Homo sapiens: one gene and its partners. The protein of the gene in region 4 interacts with the protein of the main gene of each other region in a biochemical or structural test. Each region holds a gene or a part of one and is shown on either strand. Other genes may lie near its edges.

Region 1 (7,520 bases), on a different chromosome or scaffold from region 4:
TCTTTGACCCGCCTCTCTTCTAGGTACTCTGTCTGATCTTCTTTAAGATGGAGGATCACTTTGGTACCCCTGCCAATGGGCTCACCTAGAAGAGTCAATTACAAGCGTGTAACAGGGTAAAAAGTATATGCAGTTGAGACCAGCAATTAGTAAGTATCAGCAGAACTGCTGTGAAGAACTGCTTTACAGACAGGATGCCCAAAATTTCTGCTACTGGTGTGAGCCCAGAAAATCCTAACCCAACTACCTTGTAACAGAAAAGCTAACTTACCATGGTCAGCACGCACAGTGAAGGAACCTCCAGCAGAAGACTCCCAAGCATACTGTTCATCATCGTTGTGCTTTGTGATCACAACCACTTTCTCTGCCACCAAGTAGGCAGAATAAAAGCCAACACCAAACTGCCCAATCATGGAGATGTCTGCACCAGCCTGCCAACAAGTTTAAAGTCAATCACAAGTTTTAAAGAAGCAAAAAACCAAAGAACACAGATAAGTATGAATGCCTACAGAACTGCAATACCTGAAGAGCCTCCATGAATGCTTTAGTACCAGACTTGGCAATGGTTCCCAAATTATTTATGAGATCAGCTTTGGTCATGCCAATGCCTGTGTCTACCAAAGTCAGGGTACGTTCCTGAGGGTTGGGGATGATGTCAATTTTCAGCTCTTTACCACTGTCCAACTTCGAAGGGTCTGTCAGGCTCTCATAGCGAATCTTGTCCAAGGCCTGGAAATACAAACAGCAACTTACTTTTGCTCTTTCCAAGACAGACTCTTGCTCTGTTGCCCAAGCTACAGTGCAGTGGCAAGGATGACAGCTCACTGCAGCCTTGACCTCCCAGGTTCGAGCCATCCTCCCAACCCCAGCTTCCCAAGTAGCTGGGACTACAGGCACATGCCACCGTGCCCAACTAATATTTAATTTTTTGCAGAGACAAGGTCTCGCGGTTGCCCAGGCTGCCCTCGAAATCCTAGGCTCAAGTGATCCTCCTGCCTTGGCATTACAGGTGTGAGCCAACACGCTCAGCCACTTTTGCTTTCTTAAAGCCCGTATCTTCAAAGAAAATCTTGGTTTACCTCTCTCAGCCTCAAATCTGATTGCCCCCTATCTTGAGGCTTTAGAACCAGTTAGTTCCATGAGCCCACTTATTCTGGACATAGTCCCTTCCAAGTTCAAGATGGCCAGAGTAAAACCCATCTTTTTGGAATAGCTGCAAGTTTACCCCCTTCAATAGTAGTCCCCAACAAAGGCCAAACCACTCCTTTCCCCTCCTTCTAGAGTATCAAAAAAAAAAACCATGCCAAATGTGGAAACCAGAGCACCTACATCAGAAGCATTAGAGATCAACTCCCGAAGGAAAATCTCCTTGTTGGAATAGAAGGTATTGATGATGAGGGACATGAGTTGGGCAATTTCTGCCTGAAAGGCAAAAGTCTCCACCTCCTCCTCTCCATGGTGCACTTCCTCAGGCATCTAAAATAAAAATCTCATTAATTACAAAAGAACACTAAGGCCCCATGTTTAAAAATCCTAAAGGTCATATCATTTGTTAGGACCTTAGACAGTGAGTTCAGACTGGTTTAACCGGAGTACTATCCCTTCCCAAGACTAAAAATGCATTCTCTTAAAGATCTCAGACTACACACTAAGTGGGAGGCCTGAAAATTCAGAAGGAAAAAGAAAATAAGCTAAATATTCTTCAACCAAATGTCACAGAACCCACCTACTTAAAGAATGGTGACCAGCAGCCTCAGCATCATCTGGTAGTATGGCAGAAAAATCATAATGTTGGTCCAACCCAGGTATCTAGAGATCCCAAGTAATCCTTACACAAATTTAAATGTGAAAATCACTACCTACAGTTCTTTATTTGGGGGAGATCAAAGTGACTAGTTTAAGATAAAAATGGCACTAACTTTAAACTGCTCCCCCTGAGGTGTCAGTTCCTAAGACCAGTCCAAGGGCGGGACACTCCTGCCCCATAGGGCAGGGAGGAATAACCTGGGATCCATACGATACCCACCGGAGGAGCAATTAAATCCGGACAAAGAATTCTTAAGCCAAAAGCTCCACCACGACCCTTTCACAGCACAAAATTACAGAACAGGACCAAACCCAAGAAAGATGGTGGCCGTAGCCACCAGGCCGACACTCGTCACTGCCGGACATGCGTCGGCCAGGACCACGCGAGGAGGGGGCGCCGCAGTGCACCCTCCCTCGCCCCAGCATCCGGGCACTGGGGCGGGGCGCCAGAATCCAGAAGCTTCCAGAACAATCTCAGCTCTCGAGGAAGGGCGGAGGAAGGAGCCCATGAATCTTCCAGAACCTGCTCCCCTCCCCGCCCCTCCTCCACCGGGACTGCAAGAAAGATCTGGAAGGAGGGAGTATCGGGTGCTGGAGACCGAAAGCTCTCTTCCCACACCGTCAACCCTCCCTCACAGAAACAAAGCACCCAAGAAGGCTTTAACAACGCGTCCGATAAGAGAGGTGACAAAGCCAGTCCCACAAGGCCGTGCTGAGTCACCCGAGCGGGCACCCCCGCCACCCTGCGGTCCCCCTCCGACGCCCCGTAGCCGCGTCCGGAAGTGGAGGGGCAAAAATGGCAGCGTCCCGGGCCGCGCGGCCACCACGTGCAGCTGCCAGCCGCCCACTGCCCCAACCCCACAGCCCACCTCGCTACGGCCAGCAGGCGCCGAGAGAAAGCCCCACCCCCCAAACACACTAGAGAAAACCGAGGAGGACTCAAAAAACCTCACCCACCACTACCCTCACCCTATAAAAATCCAGAGCGTTATCCACAAGCCACCCCGACATCTAGACTAAGGCTCCCTAAAGGACAGAAAAAAACAAAAACAACACGAATACAGCACTAAAGGGAAAGAAGCCTAGCGGAGATCTCAGCCTTACCTTGAAAAGAAAAGGATTATACGTAATAGTGAGCAACGTAGGCTTGCTTTCCGATACCCAGACAGTCCCAACACTGCGCCGGAGTGACTCGAGAGAGCTACTGCGTGCCCCAAGTCGCCCTATATAAGGCGAAGCACAGTACAGCCGCCCTCCTGTAGATCCCTCCGCCTTAAAGGAGTATGATTGTCAACCCCGCACCTGCCGCCACCAGCCCACCTTGACGTCATGGTCCGAAAAAAAGAGGGGGCGGGGAAGAACCCAAGCAACGGATCCGCCCACACATTTGCTTGTGATCACAGCCCCATAGTTTCACGTCTAGGACATGACTCCATCAAGAGCGGGGATGAGGAGTGCTCATTTGGCATAAACGGTGTCTCTACGGGCGAGGAACCCACTGACCTCCCTAAACACTTGTGGGGCAGGCGTCCCCACACCCAAGGGCGGGACTGGGGGGGACACCGAAAAAGAGCGGAGGCAGCTAACCACGCGGACCACCGCTCCCAGACCCAATCTTCTTCCTAGCATCTGCCCTACACATCTCGCGTCCCGACAGAGGGACTGGCATTCGGGACCCAACCTTGGGTAGCCCCAGATCCCGACTCTCGCAGGAGTAGAGGAAGGGCGGAGGGTTCGCGCTGAGGGGCAGCTCAGCGTAGGGGGAGGGCGCCGGCCGGGGCTGGCGGGGACTCTTTGCCGACATGCGGCGGAAGGCGCGGCGGCGGCACTGCGGCATTTCCAGCAGTTTCCAGGCCTGTCTCGGCGGTCCCGCCCCCTCCCCGCGAGGCTCCGCCTCTCCGGCTGCGGCCGGGGCAGGGTTTTTGCAGCGACCCCACCCGGCGACCCGCTCTGACCTGTCCGAGAGACGCGGGTACCAGCCCAATCCTCAGGGATGGGATGGAGGGTTGGGGAGGGATCGGCTGACCCCTCCTTCCCCGCGTCAATCACACAACACCCAGGCACCTGGGGCGGCTCTGCGGGCGTACACTTTTGCAGACTGAGAGTGGAGTACCTGCGGGGGGGACCCCCCTCTAGCCCCTGCGGCCGCCACGTACACGGAGCACGGGGACATGCGCCCTCCCTACGCAGGCACGTCAAGCCCTTTCTCAAGCTGGTTCGCTTTTTTTCCGCCCACTTCGCTCCTGCAGCCATTTGGACCTGGGAAGGAGGGAGTCTCTGGGAACCAGTGCAGGGCAGCCGGAGCTCTTGGAGGCCGCGTGACGATGCCGGCCACAGAGCGGCTGGCCAAGTTGTTCCCCTTCAGCCTTGGCACCAGAGCCCCTAGGCCATGCCCCTGGCCAGTGAGCTGCCGTGTCTGGCCTGGCTCAGCCGTTTTGCCTGCCCTCCAGTTGGCAAGCTGTCCTTGCCTTTCCAAGGCCTCATCCGAAAGCCTGCTGGACCCACAACCCCTCCAGGAGAGAATAGCCACTCCCTGCTCTGTGCCCTGTAGATGTCCATCTGCTCCCCTTCCTGGCCCACCCCTGGGATGCTTGGGAAGAGTTTCCCCACAGCCACCCACATCGTCCTCCCTCACCAGCCCTGTTGTTACCCAGTCTACGATTCGTTAACAAGTTTTGTTCATGTGTTGAATACCAAAGAACAAAGGGTGTCCCTTGCTTTCCTCTTCTTTGTCCCTGTCCACTTCGCCATGCCTGCCATCACCATCCCGATTGGATATCCTTTCTCCCTTTCATTATGGTCTGCAAAAAGCCTATGGCTGGGAGAAGTCTATAAGAAGGGGCGTTGGGTGCTCTATTCCTGACCAAAACCGCAAACCAGTGGGAGCGTGATCCCTTAACGTGTCCTCTCCTTCTAAGCAGAGCTCATTAAAAATCTGCTCCCCAGTTCACAGAGAGCATTCACAAACTCTCACTCTCCTGTGAGCGGATGAAAGTCAGTGTGCACATTCTGTCAACAGGGAAGTGGCTTCAGTGACTCCCAAGGCCCGTCTACTCAGAGTCCTTGCTGCACTAGCTCCCTTTCTGCTCCAGAAATGGAGCAGGGATGTGATCTCACCCCTAGGACCTAAATCCAAAGCAGGAATCACTCCTGTGGATGGGCTTCCCCTGAGCTGGATCCTTTCTGTGTCAAGACTCGACGGCTTCCTGAAGACTTTCTAAATGGGAAAATCTCAAATGTTACACCAGCATAGAAATTCCACTTTCTCTGCTGGGCACAGTGGCTCATACCTGTAATCCCAGCACTTTGGAAGGCCGAGGTGGGTGGATCACCCGAGGTCAGTAGTTCACAACCAGCCTGGCCAACATGGTGAAAAACCTCGTCTCTACTAAAAATTAGCTGGGCGTGGTGGCACATGCCTGTAATCCCAGCTACTTGGGAGGCTGAGGCAGGAAGATTGCTTGAACTCTGGAGGCAGAGGCTGCAGTGAGCTGAGACCATGCCATTGCACTCCAGCCTGGGCAACAAAAGAGAAACTCCGTCTCAAAAAAAAAAAAAAAAAAAAAAGGGGGCTGGGCGCGGTGGCTCATGCCTGTAATTCCAGCACTTTGGGAGGCCGAGTCCAGCGGATCACCAGGTCAGGAGTTCAAGACCAGCCTGGCCACTCTGGTGAAACCTTGTCTCTACTAAAAATACAAAAATTAGCCGGGCGTGGTAGCGCGCCTATAGTCCCCGCTACTTGGGAGGCTGAAGCAGGAGAATCACTTGAACCCGGGCGGCAGAGGTTGCCGTGAGCCGAGATCACGCCACTGCACTCCAGCCTGAGCGACACAGTGAGACTCTGTCTCAAAAAAGAAAAAAAAAAAAGAAATTCCACTTTCTCTTCCAGGAAGCCTTTCAGGAGACCGCCTACCTGTGTCCACAAGCTCCATCGTTTTCCACTCATTGACACTCACTAAGCCTCCACTGTGTGGAGATCCTGGGGATGCAGAGATGCATACACAGGACTGGGAGCCCTTAACCCACTGGAGGCTGCAGCAGCCAAGTGTGAACCATAGGAGGATGGGAGAAGCCGCAGAGGCCCTCAGCTCAGCTTGGGAAAGGGAGCAGTCTTAGGACCATGCCTAGCCAGGCCATGACATGGAAAGCATGGAAAGGAACAGAGCCCCATTAGAGGAACCATAGCTCAGGAACCCCAAAGGGAAGCACAAGGAGTTGAAAGTAGCCCTGCAGATGGGGGTTAGGTCGCAGAGGGCTGCAAATGCCACTGGTAAGAAGTCCTGATCTTAAGAGTGAGAGAAGTGAAGGTTATAAAAGACAGGCTTAAAACTATGTCTTCCAGACTGGGCACGGGTGGCTCACGCCTGTAATCCCAGACCTTTGGGAGGCCAAGGCGGGCGGATCACCTGAGGTCAGGAGTTTTGAGACCAGCCTGACCAACATGGAGAAACCCCGTCTCTACTAAAAATACAAAATTAGCTGGGTGTGGTGGCACATGCCTGTAATTCCAGCTACTCAGGAGGCTGAGGCAGGAGAATCGCTTGAACCCAGGAGGTGGAGGTTGCGGTGAGCCATGATCGCGCTATTGCACTCCAGCCTGGGCAATAAGAGCAAGATTCCGTCTCAGAAAACAAAAACAAAACAAAAAAAAACTACACCGTCCGAAGCCTTATTCCCAGCCTTGGAACCACTGATGTTCCCCAGATCCCTTTTATTCCTCCATGAAACCTCCTAGGCCCAGCCCAACCTTCTGCTGTCGGAGGGTGGCCAGCTAAAGCAGGGATTAACAACCCAAGGTCTGCAGCTGGTGGGCCTGCTGCTTGTTTTTTGAATGGCCTGTGGGCTAAGAAGGGTTTTTACACTTCATAATGGTTGAAAAAAAAATCAAAAGAAAGATATTATTTTGACATGGGAAAATTATATGAAATTTGAATTTCTGTTTTCATGAAGTTTTTTTTTTTTTTTTTTAGACGGAGTCTCACTCGTCTCCCAGGCTGGGGTGCAATGGCAGAATCTCAGCATACTGCGACCTCCACTTCCCGGGTTCAAGCGATTTTCCTGCCTGAGCATCCCAGGTAGCTGGGATTACAGGCGCCCGCCACCACGCCCGGCTAATTTTTGTATTTTTGGTAGAGACCGGGTTTCACCATGTCGGCCAGGCTGGTTTCGAACTCCTGACTTCAGGTGATCTGCCCGCCTCAGACTCCCAAAGTGCTGAGATTACAGTCGTGAGCCACTGCGCCTGGCCAATTTTAATGAAGTTTTGTTGAAACGTAGCCCTTGTCTTTGACTGCTTCTGTAACATAAAGTCAAAATCGATAGGTGTGACAGAGACCATAACGCTTGCAAACCCTAAGACATTTACTCTCTTGCCTTTTACAGAAAACGTTTGCAGACCCCTAAGCTACATAAAGCTCAGCAAAGTCTTGCAGGGAGCACAGAGACTCAGCCTGGACAGAGTCTCTAGGGTTCACAGAGGCCACGGAGGGGAGTTAAATAAAGCTCAGTGAACGAATAAAACAACTGAGGGTAACAGGACATCAGAGATATGAGCATGGAGAGTAGCTGTGGACCCTGAACCCCTAGAACAAGCAGCCTCTTAAGCTCAGTGCCTGCCAGGTGTGTCCCGTTACTTTCTGGGCCTTCCCAGTTCCACGAGCCTTAGCTCTCTGAATTCCTGAGGGAATACCCTGAACTGACACCCTCCAATACTA
Region 2 (7,734 bases), on a different chromosome or scaffold from region 4:
GCACATGCCTGTGGTCCCAGCTCCTCAGGAGGCTGAGGCAGAAGGATCACTTGCGCCCAGGAGGCTGATGGTGTAGTGAACCATGTTTGTGCCACTGTGCTCCAGCCTGGGCAAGAGAGTGAGACTGTCTCTTTTTTTGTTTGTTTGTTTTTTTGAGACAGTCTCACTCTGTTGCCCAGGTTGGAGTGCAGTGGTGCAATCTCGGCTCACTGCAGCCTCTGCCTCCTGAGTTCAAGCAATTGTCCTGCCTCAGCCTCCCGAGTAGCTGGGACTACAGGTGTGTGCTGCCACACCCAGCTAAATTTTTTTGTATTTTTTGTAGAGATGGGGTTTCACCATGTTGTCCAGGCTGGTCACAAACTTCTGACCTCAATTGATTGGTCTGCCTCAGCCTCCCAAAGTGCTGGGATTACAGGTGTGAGCCATTGCACCCAGCTGAGACTGTTTATCAGGATAAAACAAAAATCATGAGCCAGACCTGGGTGTAACTGCCCTGGAGGCCCTTGCTCTGGGTGACCCTGAGTAAAGGACTTACCTCTCCTAAGCCTCAGTGTTCTCAACTGTACAGTGGGACCAAAGACACCTACTTCAGAGTCGAGAGGACTAAGAAACTGCATGCAAAGTAGCTAGCCTGCTGCCTGGCAAGCAAGTGAGGGGGCATAAATTGCTATGGGGTAGGCTATCACCTGAGCCATCTCCAAAACCAGAAGTGGCTCATTTAAGCTTCATAACCACTCTATGAAGAAGACATGTTCATGTCTATGCTACAGATACTGAACTGGATGCATAGAAAGGGTAAGTGACTTGCCCTGGGTCACACAGGCAGTGGCTGAGCTAAGATCTGAATCCAGGCCACCTGGATCCAGAATCCATGCTCCAGCTTTACTGAGGGACACTGAAAGCTTTCAAATAGAGGAGGAAAATGGTCAGATTGCCCTAACAGCAACATCACTGTGGGACGAGGTCAACAAATATTTAGGATGCTAAATCTGCAAGGCTTGGTGATCTATTAGAAATACGTTGTTGAGGCCAGGCACTGTGGCTCACGCCTCTAATCCCAGCACTTTGGGAGGCCAAGGCGGGCGGATCACAAGGTCAAGAGATCAAGACCATCCTGGCTAACACGGTGAAACCCCCTCTCTACTTAAAGAATACAAAAAATTAGCCAGGTGTGGTGGCGGGCGCCTGTAGTCCCAGCTACTAGGGAGGCTGAAGTAGGAGAATGGCGTGAACCCGGGAGGCGGAGCTTGTAACAAGCCAAGATCGCACCACTGCACTCCAGCCTGGGCGACAGAGCAAGACTCCGTCTCAAAAAAAAAAAAAGAAATATGTTGTTGAGGAAGGAAGAGGAGGAGGCTGGACAGAAAAGGCGGTGAAGCAGGAGTGGAAGAACTTGGGGTTGGAGGGCTAGAGGAAGCAGAGGAGCACATGTGGTCTGTACTCTGAAGGAGAGGGCACCACATTCTGAGAACCTCTCCATGACAGGACACCTGGCCTGGTGGGAGGCAGGTGGGGTTCCTAAGAAAATGTGTGAGCAGAAGATCCATTAAAAATTAATTAGAGAAGAACAGAGGGAATGGTGTTCCAGGCAGAGGGAACAGCATTTGCACAGCCTCGTGGGGGCGAGTCATGGGGAGTGCGCCAGACACAGAAATAGGAGCACAGTGGGAACTGGCGCTGTATGGGGAGGCAGCAGCGACCTGCAGGGCCTCACAGGCCTAAAGAGCTCTGTCTTCCTCCTAGAAGGATGGGAAGTCAGCTAGAATTTGCAGAGGGTGGGGAGGAGGGAATAGATAGGGCCAGGTCTGTGTTCTCAAAGCTCACCCTGGCTACAGTTTGGAGACAGACCAGACCATATGCAGGGAGCAGTTAGGTGGTTATGGAGGCCTTCCAGGTGAGCTGACGGTTGTGTGGAAGCGGGGGATGAAGGTGGAGGGAAGTGGCTGGGTTCAAGAGGTACTTAGGAGGCAGAAGTGGCAGGACTCAGTGCCAGATCCGTTGTGGGGATGCTTGGGGTTCTTTAAGGTGGGATAGTCAGTGACCTGGCTAACGAGCCCTCAAAGAGGGCTGGAGACAGGGGGGAAGCTCATGAGGCTCAGCATCCAGGTCTGGAGCTGAGTCCTGGCCGGGCTCTTCCGTGAGTCATCTGCACACAAGTTCTATTAGTGAGAGTGCTGGACAAGATTTCCTGGGGGCAAAGACCCACCTCCAAGAGCTCCGTGATGTGCCAGGGAGAGGGGCATGAGTCTGAGAAGAGAGAAGGAACAGCCAGGGGCTGGCGTGTTGATGGTAGAAACCATTACAGAGTTCGCACCTGGTGGGTAACTGTGGAATGTCACCTGGAGACAGGACAAAAATGTCCTGTTTATTAACCGAGGGGGGAGAGCTGGAAAGACAAGAAGTTGTGGAAGGAAGAAGGGACATTAAAGATGGGGCCTGACGGGAAACAGTGGTTCCCAGTGATGCCCAGACCCAGGGAGGGGCTTTGGAGCAGGTTCACTGGAGAAATGGGGGTAAATGAAGGTCCCCAAAACAAAGGACAAAGAATGTCAGAGCTGGCCGGGCGCCGTGGCTCACGCCTGTAATCCCAGCACTTTGGGAGGCCGAGGCGGGCGGATCACCTGAGGTCACGGGTTCGAGACCAGCCTGGCCAACATGGTGAAACCCCGTCTCTACTAAAAATACAAAAATTAGCCGGGCGTAGTGGTGGGTGCCTGTAATCCCAGCTACTCGGGAGGCTAAGGCAGGAGAATCGCTTGAACCCAGGAGGTAGAGGTTGCAGTGAGCAGGTTGCAGTGAGCAGAGATTGTGCCATTGCCCTCGAGCCTGGGGGACCAAGAGTGAGACTTTGTCTAAAAAAAAAAAAAAAAGAAAAGAAAAAAAAGAACGTCAGAGTTAGGGCCCTGGATGGCTCCTCTATATCTCAAACCCCCTGGGCAATGGCAGAAACTGCGGTAGGAAAAGTTCCTACAAGTGAGGAGAGCGGGGACAGTGGCTGGTGGTGACAGGAAGGAAACAGGCAAAGGCGGCAGTCGCCAGGGAAGACCTTGCGCCCCTTCAGCGACCCGCTCACCGCTCTTCCTGCTTCCGGATTCCTCCCCGCCAGTCCAGGCTGCAGCTGTAGGAAAGCCTGGGCCGGGGGCGCGCCCCCAGGCTGCGCAACAGCTACCACAGGACCAGGCACACACCCGGTCACCACCGCTGGGGCCCGCGCCACGTGGCTGCTAGTTTCCTTCCACTTCCCCCGCTTTGTAATGCCAGGCAAGACGCTTTATGTTGATTTCACACGCTCTTAAGGGGGTCCCAGGCCGCAGTCTGAAAACCCCTGCTCCTGAGCAAGTTGCGTTTCCCTAAAGACCAGGAAGCGGAGGTAGTTCCATCGTTTCTTTACACGGCAAGGAGCTTTCAGATTATTCCGAGGGCCTGGCTATGAGTCTAGGCAGGAGGCGGCCCAATCATGGGAGGCGCCAGAGACAAAGAGGAAGAGGACATGGACTAGGCAGGGAAGCCAGGTCGAAGGAACCCCAATGCCTCCAAGGTTCCCACAGCTGGCCTTGGCCAAAATATCCGAAAATTCCCATGTAGAAACTGGCTTTTCCAGCCTGGGCAACATGGTGAAACCCCGACTCTACAAATAAATACAAAAACTAGACAGGTGTGGTGTCCGCGCCTGTGGTCCTCTGCCCACGCTCGTCCCAGCTACTGGGAAAGCTGAGGCGGGAGGATCACCTGAGCCCGGGAGGGTCGAGGCTGCAGTGAGCCGAGATTCCGCCGCGGCACCCCAGCCTGGGCGACAAAGCGAGAGCCTGTCCAAAAAAAAAAAAAAGAAAAAAAAAAAAAAAAAAACCTTTTAGGGCAAGTTAATCACCAAAGTGTTAGATACTTAATTTGGAGACCGCAAATCGGTCGGCAAAACGATGGGCTTTTCAAAATCATGCCGGGTGTAGCTGGGTAAGCATGAATTTGTTCACCAAGTCCCCGATTCCCAAGCTAAGGGACCCTTAAGTATGAAGCACATGGCTTTCGGGGAACCCAAAAGTAGGGAGCGCTCCCGAGCCAGCGGTGGGTCTGGAGAATCCCCGAGCGCGCAGGCCGCGGGACAGCCTCCCCAGTGCGCAGCAGCCTGAGGCTAACAGCCCCCAGAGGGCAGAGCCCCGCGATCCCGGCGCCGCTTGCGGCTGGATTCTTTGGCAGCGGGCGCGGCGCCAGTCAGGACGACGGCTCCGGAAGTCTCCCGGGCGCGTGAGACCCGGGCCGCTCTCCGTCCACGCACGACCCTCCCTCCAGGCGCGCCTCCCACCCCGGCCCCGCGTTCCGCTCAGCCCGGGTGACCAACTACACCTCACTTCAAAGGCCCCCACGCCCGGGCGTGCCCTCCGCCCGCCCGCGGCAGGTGGGGGTGCAGGGCGGAGGGCGCGGGCGGCCCCAGAAGGCGCCCGGACCTTCCCGAGAATTCCGGGCCGCGCAGGCGCATTGAGGCCGGCGCGGGGGCGTGCGAGAGGCGCGCGGCGGCGATTGAGGGAAGGTTGCCCGGGCCGGGCCACGAGCAGGGCCTGCGCGCGCCCGCAGGAAGGCGCGGGGGCGGGGTGCCGCGGCAACGGCGCATGCGTAGGCGCGCGGCCGCGGCGGCGGCTGGGGAGGGTTCTTCCGGAAGGTTCGGGAGGCTTCTGGAAAAAGCGCCGCGCGCTGGGCGGGCCCGTCGCTATATAAGGCAGGCGCGGGGGTGGCGCGTCAGTTGCTTCAGCGTCCCGGTGTGGCTGTGCCGTTGGTCCTGTGCGGTCACTTAGCCAAGGTGACGGGTGGTTGTGGGGGCCTGTGGAGGTGGACTGGGGACCGGGACTGGGGGCGGCTGGCGCGGGGCGGAGGCTGTGGGGGCCGGACCAGATCCCTGAAGCAGCCAGGGCCGCGCTCCCGGGCGGCCGCGCTTTCTATTCCGGAGGCCTCGGGACCGCTGCGGTTTCCGCACCCCGCTTCAGGAATGGGCCGGGCGGCCGCGGGCTCCCCGAGGCTCTGCAGCAGCGCCAGAGCTGGCGCCGCACGCGAACAGAGCGGCCCCGCCGCGGGGGTCCCCCGCCCGGCCCCGCTGGGGGCGCAGGCGGAGGAGGCCGCCGTGGCGGAGCCGCAGCCCGCGCGGGAGGGCACCCGGGGTGTTCGTTGGGGACCGCGGCGGGGGACTGGGCCCGGGCCTGCGGCGGCCTCCCGGAAGCGCGCACACGCTCGTGGTAGTTGCCGCGCTCCGAAATGAGGTCATCCTTTGTCAGCCGCCCTTCTATTTTCGGTTTACTTAAACTTCGCAAATCTCCAATTCGGCTTTAAAAATATTTGGAGAACGCGATGGAATTTCGTGTTGCCTCTGTAGACGTCCTGCAAGGTTTTAAACCGGCGCGGTGTCGTTCCAGATGCCTGAGGAAACCCAGACCCAAGACCAACCGATGGAGGAGGAGGAGGTTGAGACGTTCGCCTTTCAGGCAGAAATTGCCCAGTTGATGTCATTGATCATCAATACTTTCTACTCGAACAAAGAGATCTTTCTGAGAGAGCTCATTTCAAATTCATCAGATGTAAGTCACTTATTAACCCAGAATCGGATTTTGGTTTCAGTGTGAACTTCTTGGGGGTGCTGTATGCTTAAATTAATATTTTTTGTTAACAGGCATTGGACAAAATCCGGTATGAAAGCTTGACAGATCCCAGTAAATTAGACTCTGGGAAAGAGCTGCATATTAACCTTATACCGAACAAACAAGATCGAACTCTCACTATTGTGGATACTGGAATTGGAATGACCAAGGCTGACTTGATCAATAACCTTGGTACTATCGCCAAGTCTGGGACCAAAGCGTTCATGGAAGCTTTGCAGGCTGGTGCAGATATCTCTATGATTGGCCAGTTCGGTGTTGGTTTTTATTCTGCTTATTTGGTTGCTGAGAAAGTAACTGTGATCACCAAACATAACGATGATGAGCAGTACGCTTGGGAGTCCTCAGCAGGGGGATCATTCACAGTGAGGACAGACACAGGTAGGCACCTGAACATTCACTGGTTAAGTGAGCGGTGGAAGGGTGGGGTGCTGCAACCCTTGGACCCCTGGGGATGCGGTGAAGCTTACAGAATTTGTGTTTGCCCAACGATCAGGAACAAGCTAGAGCACTTAATTAGTGTAATGGCATGACTTGGTGGGCGGTTCTTTTGGGCGAGGCACCTTGCCCAAAAGGTTCTGCTGTGGTGGCCTTTGCATCTGTAGTAACGGCAAACCTTGCTTTATAGACACGTTATAAGGGTGTTAGGCATGGCGTTGAGCACTAAATTGAATGTATTAAGTCAATTTTTCTTTCTTCTCTTGCAGGTGAACCTATGGGTCGTGGAACAAAAGTTATCCTACACCTGAAAGAAGACCAAACTGAGTACTTGGAGGAACGAAGAATAAAGGAGATTGTGAAGAAACATTCTCAGTTTATTGGATATCCCATTACTCTTTTTGTAAGTTTTTATGTAATTGCAGAGTGAATTTCTGTCTGTAGGTGATTGGGGTGACTGTACTACATCCTTAGTCCCTAGATCTGTTCAACTAGTCTGAAGCCTGGGGAACCTAAGCTCTACTACCTAACTCTGTAAAAGTTCCTCGGGCTATTAAGTGGATGTATCAAATATTGATGAAAAGCTGGGTGCTTCTCAAGTTGGCTAATTTAGACTTGGGCCTTAGGTTGAAAATAGTGGTGCAGCGCTGTCGCTTAGTTCTGGAGTGCAGCAGTGATGTGATTTCGTGTTTTCTTTTGAAGGTGGAGAAGGAACGTGATAAAGAAGTAAGCGATGATGAGGCTGAAGAAAAGGAAGACAAAGAAGAAGAAAAAGAAAAAGAAGAGAAAGAGTCGGAAGACAAACCTGAAATTGAAGATGTTGGTTCTGATGAGGAAGAAGAAAAGAAGGATGGTGACAAGAAGAAGAAGAAGAAGATTAAGGAAAAGTACATCGATCAAGAAGAGCTCAACAAAACAAAGCCCATCTGGACCAGAAATCCCGACGATATTACTAATGAGGAGTACGGAGAATTCTATAAGAGCTTGACCAATGACTGGGAAGATCACTTGGCAGTGAAGGTGAGTGACTGATGGGTGCTTCAAGCTTGTCCTTAGATTATCATCTTTCTCCACCACCCCAAATATCTTCTATAATGCATTGTTCATTGGTACTTAGTGTATCTGTTTTATTACAGCATTTTTCAGTTGAAGGACAGTTGGAATTCAGAGCCCTTCTATTTGTCCCACGACGTGCTCCTTTTGATCTGTTTGAAAACAGAAAGAAAAAGAACAACATCAAATTGTATGTACGCAGAGTTTTCATCATGGATAACTGTGAGGAGCTAATCCCTGAATATCTGAGTAAGTATAGATAGGAAAAATAATCACTGTCACTGATTAAAGAAGTACTTTCTGGGTGGGCATGGTGGCTCACACCTATAATCCTAGCACTTTGGGAGGCCGGGGTGGGCAGATCACTTGAGGTCAGGAGTTCAAGACCAGCCTGGGCAACATGGTGAAACCCCATCTCTACTAAATTACAAAAATTAGCCCCATGTAGTGGCAGGCTGAGGCATGAAAACAGCTTGAACCCCCCCGGGAGGCAGAGGTTGCAGTGAGTGGAGATTGCGCCACTGCCCTCCAGCCTGGGCAACAGAGTGAGACTGTCTCAAAAATACGTCCCATCATCTTCAGGTTATCTTTGATTTTGGGAGTT
Region 3 (7,499 bases), on a different chromosome or scaffold from region 4:
ATTCTGCACTGTACACAGAAAACGGTGTTAGGAGTGCCAATCTCATGTTATATGACTTTTGCCACCATAAAAAGAAAAAAAGAAAAAAAAGAGCCCCAAGAAGGTCACCCTCCTTGTCTGCATGGCCGGAAGTCTTACATGTCTTGGGAGTTTGTGGGGAGGGGGTGAAATCGGGACTTCTTCTAGCTGCCACGGTAGGGCCTGGGAGCACTGGGAGCCAAAAGGGGGCTGGAGCGGAGGTTCCTCAACATCAAATCCAGAAAAACAGGGTGGGGACACGGCAGGGCCCAGCAGCACCATCCCCTGAACACCCACAAACACTGTCCCTTCCTCAGCAGGTGGAGCCATCTGCTGTCCTCTGCTCCCATGTGGCCCTCTTCATACCTAAAGATGGGACCAGGATCTGTGCTGGAGAACAGTCTTATCTCCCTCCCTCTACCCTGTCCTGGCACAATCAACGAACACTTTTTTTTTTTAAAGACAGAGTTTCACTCTTGTCGCCCAGGCTGGAGTACAATGGCACAATCTCAGCTCACTGCAGCCTCCGCCTCCTGGGTTCAAGTGATTCTCCTGCCTCAGCCTCCCAAGTAGCTGGGATTACAGGCACACACCACCATGCCCAGCTAATTTTTGTATTTTTAGTACAGATAGGGTTTCACCATGTTGGTCAGGCTGGTCTCAAACTCCTGACCTCAGGTGATCCACCTGCCTCAGCTTCCCAAAGTGCTGGGATTACCGGCGTGAGCCACCGCACCTGGCCGTCAACACACAATTAAATCTTAAACACAAACCTGCATATTGGCTGACCACGTGCACCTGCAAAACCCTTACCTCCCACCCCCAGGAAGAGGGGGTTCTCGTCCCCACCTCTCATTCCCACCCTTGAAATTGCGAAGAGGATTATAGGTAACCTGCAGGCACCCTCGCCAGAGCGTCTGTGCTTCCAGACACTTCTCCCCATTGCCGGCAACCCGGCTCCACTGCCGCGCCCAGCCTCCTCTGTTCACTGCTCTGGCCTCGGCGCCTGGAAACCGCGTGTCCATCAAAACGTGAAGGTGAACCTCGTAAGTTTATGCAAACTGGACAGGAGGGAGAGCAGAGGCAGAGATCACCGTGTCCACTCGACGTCCTGAGCGAAAAGCCACGTGTGCCCACGTGACGATGGAGACAGGAGGACCAGGGCTCTGCCTGCCCCCTTTTCTGAGCCCCTACTGCATTCAGCTCTGGGGCCTGGGCCCTCGACGGCCACCACCTCCTCACCTGGGCTCCTGCGCAGCCAAGCGCAGTCCCGCACGCTCATCTTCCACGTCAGCTCCTGCAGCGAGAGCTTGGCATGCTTCCCCAGGGAGATGAACTTCTTGGTGTTCCTGAGGAAGCGGCGTTCGTTGTGCCTGGAGCCCCAGAGGCCTGGGGGCACCAGCCGGCGCAGGCAGGCCCGCACGAAGCCGTACACCTGCCAGGGGCTGCTGTGCTGGCGGAGCAGCTGCACCAGGCGACGGGGGTCTGTGTCCTCCTCCTCGGGGGCCGCCACAGAGCCCTGGGGCTTCTCCCGGGCACAGACACCGGCTGCTGGGGTGACCGCAGCTCGCAGCGGGCAGTGCGTCTTGAGGAGCACCCCGTAGGGGCACTGCGCGTGGTTCCCAAGCAGCTCCAGAAACAGGGGCCGCATTTGCCAGTAGCGCTGGGGCAGGCGGGGCAACCTGCGGGGAGTCCCTGGCATCCAGGGCCTGGAACCCAGAAAGATGGTCTCCACGAGCCTCCGAGCGCCAGTCAGGCTGGGCCTCAGAGAGCTGAGTAGGAAGGAGGGCCGCAGCTGCTCCTTGTCGCCTGAGGAGTAGAGGAAGTGCTTGGTCTCGGCGTACACCGGGGGACAAGGCGTGTCCCAGGGACGTGGTGGCCGCGATGTGGATGGGGGGCCCGCGTGGTGCTGGCGGCCCACGGATGGGTGGGAGTGGCGCGTGCCAGAGAGCGCACCCTCCAAAGAGGTGGCTTCTTCGGCGGGTCTGGCAGGTGACACCACACAGAAACCACGGTCACTCGGTCCACGCGTCCTGCCCGGGTGGGCCCAGGACCCCTGCCCAACGGGCGTCCGCTCCGGCTCAGGGGCAGCGCCACGCCTGGGCCTCTTGGGCAACGGCAGACTTCGGCTGGCACTGCCCCCGCGCCTCCTCGCACCCGGGGCTGGCAGGCCCAGGGGGACCCCGGCCTCCCTGACGCTATGGTTCCAGGCCCGTTCGCATCCCAGACGCCTTCGGGGTCCACTAGCGTGTGGCGGGGGCCGGGCCTGAGTGGCAGCGCCGAGCTGGTACAGCGGCGGCCCGCACACCTGGTAGGCGCAGCTGGGAGCCACCAGCACAAAGAGCGCGCAGCGTGCCAGCAGGTGAACCAGCACGTCGTCGCCCACGCGGCGCAGCAGCAGCCCCCACGCCCCGCTCCCCCGCAGTGCGTCGGTCACCGTGTTGGGCAGGTAGCTGCGCACGCTGGTGGTGAAGGCCTCGGGGGGGCCCCCGCGGGCCCCGTCCAGCAGCGCGAAGCCGAAGGCCAGCACGTTCTTCGCGCCGCGCTCGCACAGCCTCTGCAGCACTCGGGCCACCAGCTCCTTCAGGCAGGACACCTGCGGGGGAAGCGCCCTGAGTCGCCTGCGCTGCTCTCCGCATGTCGCTGGTTCCCCCCGGCCGCCCTCAACCCCAGCCGGACGCCGACCCCGGGGAGGCCCACCTGGCGGAAGGAGGGGGCGGCGGGGGGCGGCCGTGCGTCCCAGGGCACGCACACCAGGCACTGGGCCACCAGCGCGCGGAAAGCCGCCGGGTCCCCGCGCTGCACCAGCCGCCAGCCCTGGGGCCCCAGGCGCCGCACGAACGTGGCCAGCGGCAGCACCTCGCGGTAGTGGCTGCGCAGCAGGGAGCGCACGGCTCGGCAGCGGGGAGCGCGCGGCATCGCGGGGGTGGCCGGGGCCAGGGCTTCCCACGTGCGCAGCAGGACGCAGCGCTGCCTGAAACTCGCGCCGCGAGGAGAGGGCGGGGCCGCGGAAAGGAAGGGGAGGGGCTGGGAGGGCCCGGAGGGGGCTGGGCCGGGGACCCGGGAGGGGTCGGGACGGGGCGGGGTCCGCGCGGAGGAGGCGGAGCTGGAAGGTGAAGGGGCAGGACGGGTGCCCGGGTCCCCAGTCCCTCCGCCACGTGGGAAGCGCGGTCCTGGGCGTCTGTGCCCGCGAATCCACTGGGAGCCCGGCCTGGCCCCGACAGCGCAGCTGCTCCGGGCGGACCCGGGGGTCTGGGCCGCGCTTCCCCGCCCGCGCGCCGCTCGCGCTCCCAGGGTGCAGGGACGCCAGCGAGGGCCCCAGCGGAGAGAGGTCGAATCGGCCTAGGCTGTGGGGTAACCCGAGGGAGGGGCCATGATGTGGAGGCCCTGGGAACAGGTGCGTGCGGCGACCCTTTGGCCGCTGGCCTGATCCGGAGACCCAGGGCTGCCTCCAGGTCCGGACGCGGGGCGTCGGGCTCCGGGCACCACGAATGCCGGACGTGAAGGGGAGGACGGAGGCGCGTAGACGCGGCTGGGGACGAACCCGAGGACGCATTGCTCCCTGGACGGGCACGCGGGACCTCCCGGAGTGCCTCCCTGCAACACTTCCCCGCGACTTGGGCTCCTTGACACAGGCCCGTCATTTCTCTTTGCAGGTTCTCAGGCGGCGAGGGGTCCCCACCATGAGCAAACCACCCCAAATCTGTTAATCACCCACCGGGGCGGTCCCGTCGAGAAAGGGTGGGAAATGGAGCCAGGCGCTCCTGCTGGCCGCGCACCGGGCGCCTCACACCAGCCACAACGGCCTTGACCCTGGGCCCCGGCACTCTGTCTGGCAGATGAGGCCAACATCTGGTCACATCCCGCCCGCACAGGGTGGAGGGCAACCTCGGGGTCCAGGCACCTGGCTCCAAGCCTCGGACTGCAGAGCTAGGAGGCCCGACTTCCAGCCCAGCAGTAGAAGCCACACGGCCACTGGTCCCCTCCAGACCTGGGGCCCCGGCACAACCGCAGGACAGCTGAGGACTTCCCAGGAATCCAGACTCCGGGTTGCTCAAGTTTGGATCTAAGGGGCGAGAAACTTCTGGGTCTCCCGAGGCCTTGCAGGGATGCTGTAGCTGAGGTCGGCAAACACTGAAATGCTAACAAACGCAACCTTAAATGTAACCTTTCCTACTTTCAGAAACTGCCGGAGGAAATTGCTTTATTTATGGAGCTAGCATTTGAACAGGCCTCGCACCCTCCCTGGGCTGTCACGCTCGCTGGAGGTTAGCCTCGTCTTGTAAATACTTAGGATTACAGGTCGCTCTTCTAGAAATCCCCTTAGTGATCCCTAAGCCTTTTTAAAGGGCTGTGTTTGTGAATTGTCTCTGCCACTAGGGCAAAGGGGCGGTTTGGAAAATTTGTTCCAACAAAAGTTAAGTTGTAGCTTACACTGGTTCTCTGCAGAGAAGCCAACATAGAAAACACAATTTTAAAAGAGGGAAGAGAAGAAATGGAAGCAGAAGATTATGCTGGAGTAATTAACACCATGTGCATGGCGAGGAAACGCCTCCCGGCATTCAATGAAGATCGCTGATACCCAGAAGACACCCCAGTATTATGGGTGCAGTTAGTGTGTCTTTGAAAAGCTGATGATGTCTTAGTCATCACAGTGTAAAACATCAAGAGTGTTCTAACAACAATAAAAAAATTCTATCATTGGCTTAAAACACCACAACACTTGAGTGGGGTGAGCTTCCTACCTCAGACCCAGATGTTTCTAAACAGAGTAAATTCTGAGCTGGGCATGGTGGCTCACACCTGTAATCCCAGCACTTTAGGAGGCAGAGGCAGGTGGATCATCTGAGGTCAGAAGTTCGAGACCAGCCTGGCCAACATGGTGAACCCCACCCCCACCCCCGTCTCTACTAAAAATACAAAAAATTAGCTGGGCATGGTGGCGGGTGCCTGTAATCCCAGCCAAATGGGAGGCGGAAGCAGGAGAATCACTTGAACCTGGGAGGCAGAGGCTGCAGTAAGCCAAGATCGCGCCATTGCACTCCCTCCAGCCTGAGCAACAAGAGTGAAACTGCCTCTCAAAACAAAACAAACAAACCAACAAATGAAACAGTGGATTCAGTACCAGCAGTGAAAAATAACAAAGTATCATTCCTTCCTCCACAGGAGTGAGAGGAACTCCTCTGCCCCTGGGGGGGGATAGGGAAGGGGCTCAATCCCAGTAGAGTAGGAGGGATGGACTTTAATTTCTACATGTTTCAGCACACACTGAGACATTGAGATTCAGGACAGTGTCCACACTCGCGCCCTGATTCTACATCAGGTTTCTACTGGCAGATGGCAACCCCACTGGGACCTGAAGCCTGCAGCCTCCCAGCTGCCCCTGCAGTGGGTCCCATGGGATAACAGGTGGTCACAGAAACTGTGAATATGTCAAGAGACGGTGTATCCCCAGTCTACGAAGAATTACAGAAAATATCAAAGGAGGGTAACTCCTGAGTAAAGGGGAAATTGAACTCCATGAACTCCTTACCAGTGGGTGTGACTTGAGCCCAGGGAAGTTTTAAAATGGTTAAATAGGCCAGGTGCAGTGGCTCATGCCTGTAATCCCAGCACTTTGGGAGGCTGAGGTGGGCGGATCACCTGAGGTCAGGATTTTGAGATCAGCCTGACCAACATGGTGAAAGCCCATCTCTACTAAAAATACAAAATTAGCCGGGTGTGGTGGTGCATGCCTGAAATCCCAGCTACTTGGGAGGCTGAGGCACGAGAATTGCTTGAACCCAGGAGACGGAGGTTGCAGTGAGCCAAGATCATGCCGCTGCACTCCAGCCTGGGCAACAAGAGCATAACTCTGTCTCAGAAAGTAAGTAAATAAAATAAAATAGCTAAATAAAATCACTCGTGCCTGCCCTGCCCTTGCCCGGAGGCACTTCAGCCCTGTCCTTGGATGTTTCTGTAAACCTTTGTTTTGAAATAATCCTAGATTCACAGTGCATGGGTTTCCTGTTGCTTCTGCAAATCCCCACACACTTCATGCTAGAAGGGCAGCGCGAGTGCCCTCCTATGGCACGGAGGCCGGAGGTCCACGATGGGCCCTGGTGGGCTAAGGGCCAGCCGTGCCTTCCTGCTGCAGGCTCCGTGGAGGGTCCCTTCCCCGCTTTTTCCAGCTTCTGGAGGCGCTTGCAGGCCTGGGCTCGAGGCCCTCCCTCCCTTTTCAGCCTCAGACTGACTGCCTCCATCGTCCTGAGGCTGCCCCCCTCTGACCCTCCTGCCCGCCTCTTCCCAGAACCCCTGGATTACTTTTCGGGCCTGCAGGTAGTCCCGAAGGATCCCAGACCTCAGGGTCCTCACGGAGATCACACCTGCAAAGGCCCTGGGGCCGGGCGGGTTCTGTCCACAGGTTTGGGGGAATCAGGACGTGGGCATCTCTAGAGCATTATCCTGCCCAGGACACTCGGGCATGGCAAAGATGGCACAGCCTCCGGGTTCCCCCATCCCCACTCCCCTATGGTTAGTCTCCCATAACTGAGCCAATACCATCAGAACCAGGAAACTGGCTTTAGTAAAAGGTGCGTGCAGTAGCCCCCAGCTGCCGCCCCCACCGTCCTTAACCCCCCTAACCACTCCCCTGCCATGGGGTGAAATTCTTTCTTTTTGAGCATGTTGCGTACGTATCCCATGGAGGTGGCAGTTTTGACTCAGCGTAATTCCCTTGAGATGCCTGCAGGCTTTATAAACGGCATGTTCCTCTTCACTGTGAGGAACTGTCCACCGTGCGGATGGACCCGTTTGTTTAACCAGTTTGTTAAAGGACATTTTAGCAGGGATTTCCCTGCTTTGTAGCTATTAAAATAAAACAGCGGGGGTCGGTCGTGGACGGGAGTGTGTACATGATGTGCGTAGTCACGTGAATTCCCAGGGCTGTGGGGCAAATGTCCAGGGGTGCCAATGCTGGGTCTTTTGGGAAGAGGATGCTTAGTGCTTGTGGAAACTGCCACTCTGTGTTCCAGAGGGAGGGGGGCAGAAAAGTGCTGGGCAGAGAAGGGCGGGTCCCTGGCGGGGGCTCCATCCCCAGGCCTGTGCCCGTGGACCTAGGTGAGGACAGGCACTCCTACTTTCACACCCAAATGTTGCATTTCCCAAGAGCGCCCTGGCCCACCACGCCCCCGTCCTATGCCTATAAAAACCCCCAGACCCTAGCGGGCAGAGACACACGCAGCTGGACGTGGAAAGGAGCACAGAAACAGAAGAACACACCGGCAGGCCCCGGCAGATGACAGGAGACGGGGAGCGCCTGGAAATGGAGGTCAGCGTGCAGCCGGACGCCAGGAACCTGCATCGGGGGCCACGAGCCAGGTTCAGGCTCAGAGGAGCCAGTCTGGGAGGCGCAGAATCTCCTCCCTTCAACGCATGTGAGTGTTGGGGAAGGAGACAGACACCCCATGTGAGGAGGAACCGTGCGAGCTACGTCGCTGAGA
Region 4 (7,018 bases):
CAAGCAGTTCTCCTTCCTCAGTCCCTTGAGTAGCTGGGATTACAGGCGCCCGCCACCAAGCCTGGCTAATTTTTGTTTTTTAGTAGAGGCAGGTTTTCACCATGTTGGCCAGGCTGGTCTCGAACTCCTGACCTCAGGTGAGCCACCCGCCTCAGCCTCCCAAAGTGCTGGAATTACAGGAGTGAGCCACCATACCCAGCCTGTTTTGTCTTTTATAATAAAATGTGCATTGCACATAGTAAAACTATCAAATGGATTAAAATAACTGGGACACTTTTCCTAGCAAACTGTTTCCATCTAGCTTCTTTGGTGCATCAATTTTTTATAGTGAAGGGTGCTTGCAGTGTTTTATAAATTAGAGTTATAACTCACCAGATACTAACATATTAAAATTATGGTATTTAGGAACAAATACGGTCTCTGTCCTTTCAAGGCTAACAAAGAGACCTTTTAGATAGGACTATAGAGGATTTTAGGTTATGCAAAATGTAATTGCTTGGATTGGTATATATAGCCCTTCTATTGAGCTTAGAAATGCTTGTCACATCAGCATGGAATAGGCTGGGCACTGTGCCTCATGCCTGGAATCCTAGCACTTTAGGAGGCCAAGGTGAGAGTATCATTTTGGGCCAGGAGTTCAAGACCAGCCTGGGCAACACTGCGAGACCACATCTCTGCCAAAAAGAAAAAAATCGCTGGCCATGGTGACACATGCTTGTAGTCCTAGCTAACTGGGGGGCACTGAGGTGGGAGAATTGCTTGAGACAAGGAGTTTGAGGTTATAGTGAGCATGGTTGTACCACTGCACTCCAGCCTGGGCCACATAGCAAGACCCTGACTTAGAGAAGCATGGAGACCAGGAGTGATGGCTCACATCTAATATCAGCACTTTGGGAGCCCAAGGCTGGCAGATTACTGGAGGCCAGGAGTTCAAACCAACCATGCCAACATGGCAAAACCCTGTCTCTACTGAAGATACAAAAATTAGTTGGGCATGGTAGCATACCTGTAATCCCAGCTACTTGGGAGGCTGAGACATGAGAATCGGTTGAACCCAGGAGGCGGAGGCTACAGTGAGCTGAGATGTGCCCCTGCTGCACCCCAGCCTGGGCAACAGAGTGAGACTCTGCCTCAAAAAAAAAAAAAAAAAAAAAAAGCATGGAATGTCCGCCTGTGGGGTTTATTGTTGTTTTGCTTTAAGTAGATTATTTACATAATGTATGCAGAGGTGGAAAGTTTTGAATCTATAGGGATATTACTATTAAAATGAATTAACAGTCTTACACAATGGTTATGAGTTTAGCCAGTGTTAGCAGAAAGGCTAGAGATAAATCCAGTATAATTAGTTTAGAAGCTAAAGTTAAAGCTAAACTCAGCCCCCTCTCCATATGTTTTGGGTTTGTTTTTTTAGACGGAGTCTCACTCTGTCACCCCGGAGTGACAGGCTGGAGAACGGTGGCATGATCTTGGCTCACCGCAACCTCCACCTCCCAGGTTGAAGCAATTCTTCTGCCTTAGCCTCCCGAGTAGCTGGGATTACAGGTGCCTGCCACCATGCCCGGCTAATTTTTGTATTTTTAGTAGAGACGAGGTGTCATCATGTTGGCAAGGCTGATCTTTAACTCCTGACCTCAAGTGATCCACCTGCCTTGGCTTCCCAAAGTGCTAGGATTACAGGCATGAGCCACCGCACCCAGCCCTCTCCATATGTTAATAGGAGAAAAAGAGATGGTGTAATCCTCATGGAAGGCAAAAGGAGATTTCATAAACGCTGGTTTTCCATTTTTGTTTTATTGGTTTTGGTTTTTTTTTTTTTTTGAGAAAGTCTTGCTGTCGCCCAGGCTGGAGTGCAATGGCGCGATCACAGCTCACTGCAATCTTCACTTCCGGGGTTCAGGTGATCCTCCTGCCTCAGCCTCACAATGAGTAGATGGAACTACAGGCATGCGTCACCACACCTAGCTAATGTTTTCACATTTTTAGTAGAGATGAGGTTTTGCAATATTGGCCAGGCTGGTCTCGAACTCGGCCTCAAGTGATCTGCCCACCTCAGTCCCCCAAAGTGGTGGGATTATAGGTGTGAGTCACTGCACCCAACCCAATTTTCTTTCTTTTTTTTTTTTTGGGGGGACAGAGTTTCACTCTTGCTGCCCTGATTGGACTGCAACGGCGTCATCTTGCCTCTCTGCAACCCCTGCTTCCCAGGTTCAAGCGACTATCCTGCCTCAGCCTCCCAAGTAGCTGGGGTTACAGGCATGTGCCGTCAGGCCTAGCAATTTTTTTTAAGTAGAGATGGGGTTTCACCACGCTGGTCAGGCTGGTCTCCAACTCCTGACCTCAGGTGATCCTCCAGCTTCAGCCTCCCAAAGTGCTGGGATTAACAGGCGTGAGCCACCACACCTGGCCCAGTTCTCCTTTCAAATGAGGGAATACATATGTGTTTATTCCTGATTCAGGATAAGTGTAGGGCACCCTCCACCCACTTGTAGTTTTTGTTTTTTAAAAGTTTTTTTTTTTTTTTGAGACCAGTTCTTGCTTTGTCATTCAGGCTGGAGTGCTGTGGCGTGATCTCAGCTCACACAGCCTTGACTTCGCAGGCTCAGGTGATCCTCCCACCTCAGTCTCCATGGTGGATGGAACCACAGATACATGCTACCACACACCCAGGTTATTTTTTGTAGAGATGGGGTCTTACCTTGTTGCCCAGGCTGGTCTCAAACTTCTGAACTCAGGTGATGCATCCACCCCGGCCTCCCAAAGTGCTGGGATTACAGGTGTGAGTCACCATACCTGGTCCCCCCATTTGTAGTTGTGTTTTGTTTTTTTGTTTGGACAGAGTTTTTGCTCTTGTTGTCCAGACTGGAATGCAATGGCTTGATCTCGTGAACCCCAATCCTATTTCAGACAGCCCCAATCCTATTTCGGACAGCCCCTTTATGATTCTCAAATTAGTGCTGTGTAAATGGGTATTTTAAGAATCAGGCCGGGCGCGGTGGCTCATGCCTGTAATCCCAACACTTTGGGAGGCCGAGGAGGGCGGATCACGAGGTCAGGAGATCCAGACCTTCCTGGCTAACAGAGTGAAACCCCGTCTCTACTAAAAATACAAAAAATTAGCCGGATGAGGTGGCGGGAGCCTGTAGTCCCAGCTACTCGGGAGGCTGAGGCAGGAGAATGGCGTGAACCCGGGAGGCGGAGCCTGCAGTGAGCAAAGATCACGCCACTGCACTCCAGCCTGGGCAACAGAGTGAGACTCCATCTCAAAAAAAAAAAAAAAAAAAAAAAAGAATCAGCCGGGTGCAGTGGCTCATGCCTGTAATCCCAGCACTTTGGGAGGCCAAGGCGGCAGATCTCCTGAGGTCAGGAATTTGAGACCAGCCTGACCAACATGGCGAAACCCCATCTCTACTTAAAAAAAAAAATACAAAAATTAGCCAGGTACGGTGGCATGCGCCTGTAATCCCAGGTACTCAGGGGGCTGAGGCAGGAGAATCGCTTGAACACCCAGGAGGCAGAGCTTGCAGTGAGCCGAAATCACACCATTGCACTCCAGCCTGGGCGACAGAGCAAGACTCCATCTCAAAAAAAAAGAGTCTCACTCTGTAACCCAGGCTGGAGTGCAGCAGTGGCGCATTCTCGGCTCACTGCAACCTCCTCGCCTCCTGGGTTCAAACCATTCTCCTGCCTCAGCCTCCCAAGTAGCTGGGATTACAGGCACCCGCCACGGTGCCCAGCTAATTTTTGTATTTTTAGTAGAGACAGGGTTTCACCATGTTGGCCAGGCTAGTCTGGAACTCCTGACCACAAGTGACCTGCCCGCCTTGGCCTCCAAAAGTGCTGGGATTACATGTGTGAGCCACCGTGCCCAGCTGACATTGGCACTATCAAATGAAGTGTGGCTTCATGTGAATGAGCACCTGAGGCACAGAAAAGCCCCAACAGCACATTTTATTCAGCTTCAGAATACAAAATGGGAAAAGAGCATATGCTGAAGGTGAAGTTAAAATATCAATGAGCAAGTGGCTCCAATTCCAGCACTCTGGGAGGCTGAGGAGGGAAGACTGCTTGAGCCCAAGAGTTTGAGACAAGATAAGCCTTAGCAACATTGTGAGACCCCCGTCTCTAAAAAAAATTAAGTTAGCTGGGTGTGGTGGTGCACACCTGTAGTCCCAACTACTGGGGGACCAAGGCAGGAGGATGGCTTGATCCCAAGTTTGAGGCTGCAGACAGTGATGACACCACTGCACTCCAGCCTGGGCAAAGTAGTGAGACAGTGTCTCAGAAAAGAAGAAATATTCCCGGAAAACCGCAAGTTCAAAGGTATACCAAGGATCGGGTGCAGCAGCTCACACCTGTAAACCCAGGACTTTGGGAGGAAGATCACTTGAGCCCAGGAGTTCAAGACCAACCTGGACAACACGGTAAGATCCCGTCTCCATTTAAAAGAAAAAAAAAAAAAAAGGCCGGGCGTGGTGGCTCACACCTGTAATCCTAGCACTTTGGAAGGCCAAGGTGGGATGATTGCCTGAGCAAAACGGCGAAACCCCATTTCTACTAAAATACAAAAAATTAGCTGGGCATAGCGGCACATGCCTGTAGTCCCAGCTACTTGGGAGTCTGAGAGAGGAGAATCGCTTGAACCTAGGAGGCAGAGGTTGCAGTGAGCCAAGATCGCGCCACTGCACTGCAGTCTGGGCAACAGAATGAGACTCCGCCTCAAGAAAAAAAAAAAAATTTACAAAGGTATACCGAGGAAGCAGGGAAGCAGCCTCATTCTAGAATCTATCATTGCCGGCTGCGGCAGTAGCTCACGCCTGTAATCCCAGCACTCTAGGAGTCTGAGGCGCGTGGATCATGAGGTCAGGAGTTCAAGACCAGCCTGGCCAAGATGGTGAAACCCCATCGCTACTAAAAATATATAAAATTAGGCCAGATGCAGTGGCTCACACCTGTAATCCCAGCACTTTCTGAGGCCGAGGCGGGTGATCACCTGAAGTCGGGAGTTTGAGACCAGCCTGACCAACATGGAGAAACCCCATCTCTACTAATTAGCCGGGCATGGTGGCGCATGCCTGTGATCGCAGCTACCCGGGAGGCTGAGGCAGGAGAATTGCTTGAACACAGGAGGCGGAGGTTGCGGTGAGCCGAGACCGTGACATTGCACTTCAGCCTGGGCAACAAGAGAGAAACTCTGTCTCAAAAAAAAAAAAAAAAAAAAAAAAAAAATTAGCCAGGCATGGCGGCAGGCACCTGGAATCCCAGCTACTCAGGAAGCTGAGGCAGAGAACTACTTCAACCCAGAAGGCGGAGGTTGCAGTGAGCCGAGATCGCACCAGTTCACTCCAGCCTGGGCGACAGAGCCAGACTCCATCTCAAAAAAACAAACAAAAACCAAAACTATGGGCCGGGCGCGGTGGCTCACGCCTGTAATCCCAGCACTTTGGGAGGCCGAGGCAGGCGGATCACGAGATCAGGAGATCGAGACCATTCTGGCTAACACGGTGAAACCCCGTCTCTACTAAAAATACAAAAAATTAGCCGGGCGAGGTGGCGGGTGCCTGTAGTCCCAGCTACTCGGGAGGCTGAGGCAAGAGAATGGCGTGAACCCCAGGGGGCGGAGCCTGCAGTGAGCCGAGATCGCGCCACTGCACTCCAGCCTGGGCGACAGCGAAACTCCGTCTCAAAAAAAAAAAAAACAAAAAAAACAAACAAAAAAAACCCCAAAACTGTAATTGCCGATCCACACAGTAAATAGTAAAAAGTTCAATACACTATTTCCATAGCAAAATATGCTCACTAGAGTATTTTTTGAGCTCACGTAAATATGATCTTAGGTGTTTAACAGCGAGATTGGTTCTGAACAGTTGATATTTACAAAGGTTTTTTTTCCCCTGAAAAGAGACAATCGCTAACCACAAGACCCAAAAATGATAGCTTGTAGATTTTTAAACCGAGAAAATCCAATTAGTCAGGAGAATCTTAATTTAGCAATAAAACACTGGCTTGCACTCAAGAAATTTTTCACTTCCAGTTTCTACTGCCTTCTAGTTAAAGTCTAACTGAACACAGGAAGAAAAATTAAAAATCCAGTTGCCAGGTTACAGTGCACAGGAAATCAATACTGAACAAAGGCCACCCACCATCAGATACTCAAGTTATAGCAATTAACAATATAGCATATGTTCACTACGACAATTTGTTTTGCAGGCTAAAGATGGACAATTTTATTTTGGAGATTCGTTCCTACACAGCTGAATGACAGGAAGATTTTTACCAAAATCAGAGACGCAAGTTTCTGGACAACTTCCTAATTATATACAAGACATTAGACAGGAAAAACAACAACTTCCAACATCTCTAAAATAAATAAAACATTTTACTTTTTCTCTATTTTTAATCGGTCGAACGACAATGATTCAAAAAGAAAATGCGAAGTAGCACCCTCTGGCAAGGTTAGTTAAGCGGAAAATCTTAAGTGGGGGAAGGTCCTAAAAATCCCAGCCTTCTCCAAGATAGGTCCGAAATTAAGAGCTTTTATGTAAATTATGAGACAAACTTTTATAACTTAGGATTTAAAGAAATGTAACTACGAAATCGCTGAAGAGCAAATGAGTAAATCAAATGAGAAAACACACTCCCAAGCCTTTAAGACACCCAGCATAAATCTCTCTCTCCCCAGAGCTTAAAAAAAATTTATTAGCCAGGCATGGTGGTGCTTGCCTGCAGTCCCAGCTACTCGGGAGACTGAGGCAAGGAGGATCGCTTGAGCCCGGGAGGTAGAGGTTGCAGCTGCACTCCAGCCTGGGTGACAGAGGAAGACCCTGTCTCCAAAAAAAACACTTTTAAAACAAGTTATCAACAAAATAAACCCTTATCAGCCAGATTCTTAAGACTGGATGACGACCCATTAAAGGCTTCTTCCACTTCAAATAACTGACTTACAACTTTCATTTTAAAATTTAAGTCTTTAGCTTGTTAAGAGTCCCTGAAGAATTTACTAAACGGCATATATTATTTT

Evidence for each region.
Region 1: the proteins of PTGES3 (region 4) and HSP90AB1 form a complex in vitro, tested with the Homo sapiens proteins (3 studies listed by BioGRID and IntAct, with this or other methods).
Region 2: the proteins of PTGES3 (region 4) and HSP90AA1 form a complex in vitro, tested with the Homo sapiens proteins (10 studies listed by BioGRID).
Region 3: the proteins of PTGES3 (region 4) and TERT form a complex in vitro, tested with the Homo sapiens proteins (2 studies listed by BioGRID).

What each region holds. Positions count from the first base shown.
Region 1 is NC_000006.12:44,242,586-44,250,105, reverse strand, and holds the start of HSP90AB1 (heat shock protein HSP 90-beta), read right to left. Parts: upstream 3,006-7,520; 5' UTR 2,911-3,005; intron 2,164-2,910; exon of another isoform or gene 2,027-2,163; intron 1,490-2,026; exon of another isoform or gene 1,477-1,489; coding exon 1,330-1,476; intron 730-1,329; coding exon 523-729; intron 432-522; coding exon 272-431; intron 86-271; coding exon 1-85. UniProt on the Homo sapiens protein: Molecular chaperone that promotes the maturation, structural maintenance and proper regulation of specific target proteins involved for instance in cell cycle control and signal transduction. Undergoes a functional cycle linked to its ATPase activity.
Region 2 is NC_000014.9:102,084,044-102,091,777, reverse strand, and holds the start of HSP90AA1 (heat shock protein HSP 90-alpha), read left to right. Parts: upstream 1-4,733; 5' UTR 4,734-4,792; intron 4,793-5,399; coding exon 5,400-5,561; intron 5,562-5,653; coding exon 5,654-6,020; intron 6,021-6,346; coding exon 6,347-6,480; intron 6,481-6,779; coding exon 6,780-7,097; intron 7,098-7,213; coding exon 7,214-7,379; intron 7,380-7,734. UniProt on the Homo sapiens protein: Molecular chaperone that promotes the maturation, structural maintenance and proper regulation of specific target proteins involved for instance in cell cycle control and signal transduction.
Region 3 is NC_000005.10:1,292,053-1,299,551, forward strand, and holds the start of TERT (telomerase reverse transcriptase), read right to left. Parts: upstream 3,017-7,499; 5' UTR 2,938-3,016; coding exon 2,719-2,937; intron 2,615-2,718; coding exon 1,261-2,614; intron 1-1,260. UniProt on the Homo sapiens protein: Telomerase is a ribonucleoprotein enzyme essential for the replication of chromosome termini in most eukaryotes. Active in progenitor and cancer cells. Inactive, or very low activity, in normal somatic cells.
Region 4 is NC_000012.12:56,678,276-56,685,293, forward strand, and holds part of PTGES3 (prostaglandin E synthase 3), read right to left. Parts: intron 1-7,018. UniProt on the Homo sapiens protein: Cytosolic prostaglandin synthase that catalyzes the oxidoreduction of prostaglandin endoperoxide H2 (PGH2) to prostaglandin E2 (PGE2).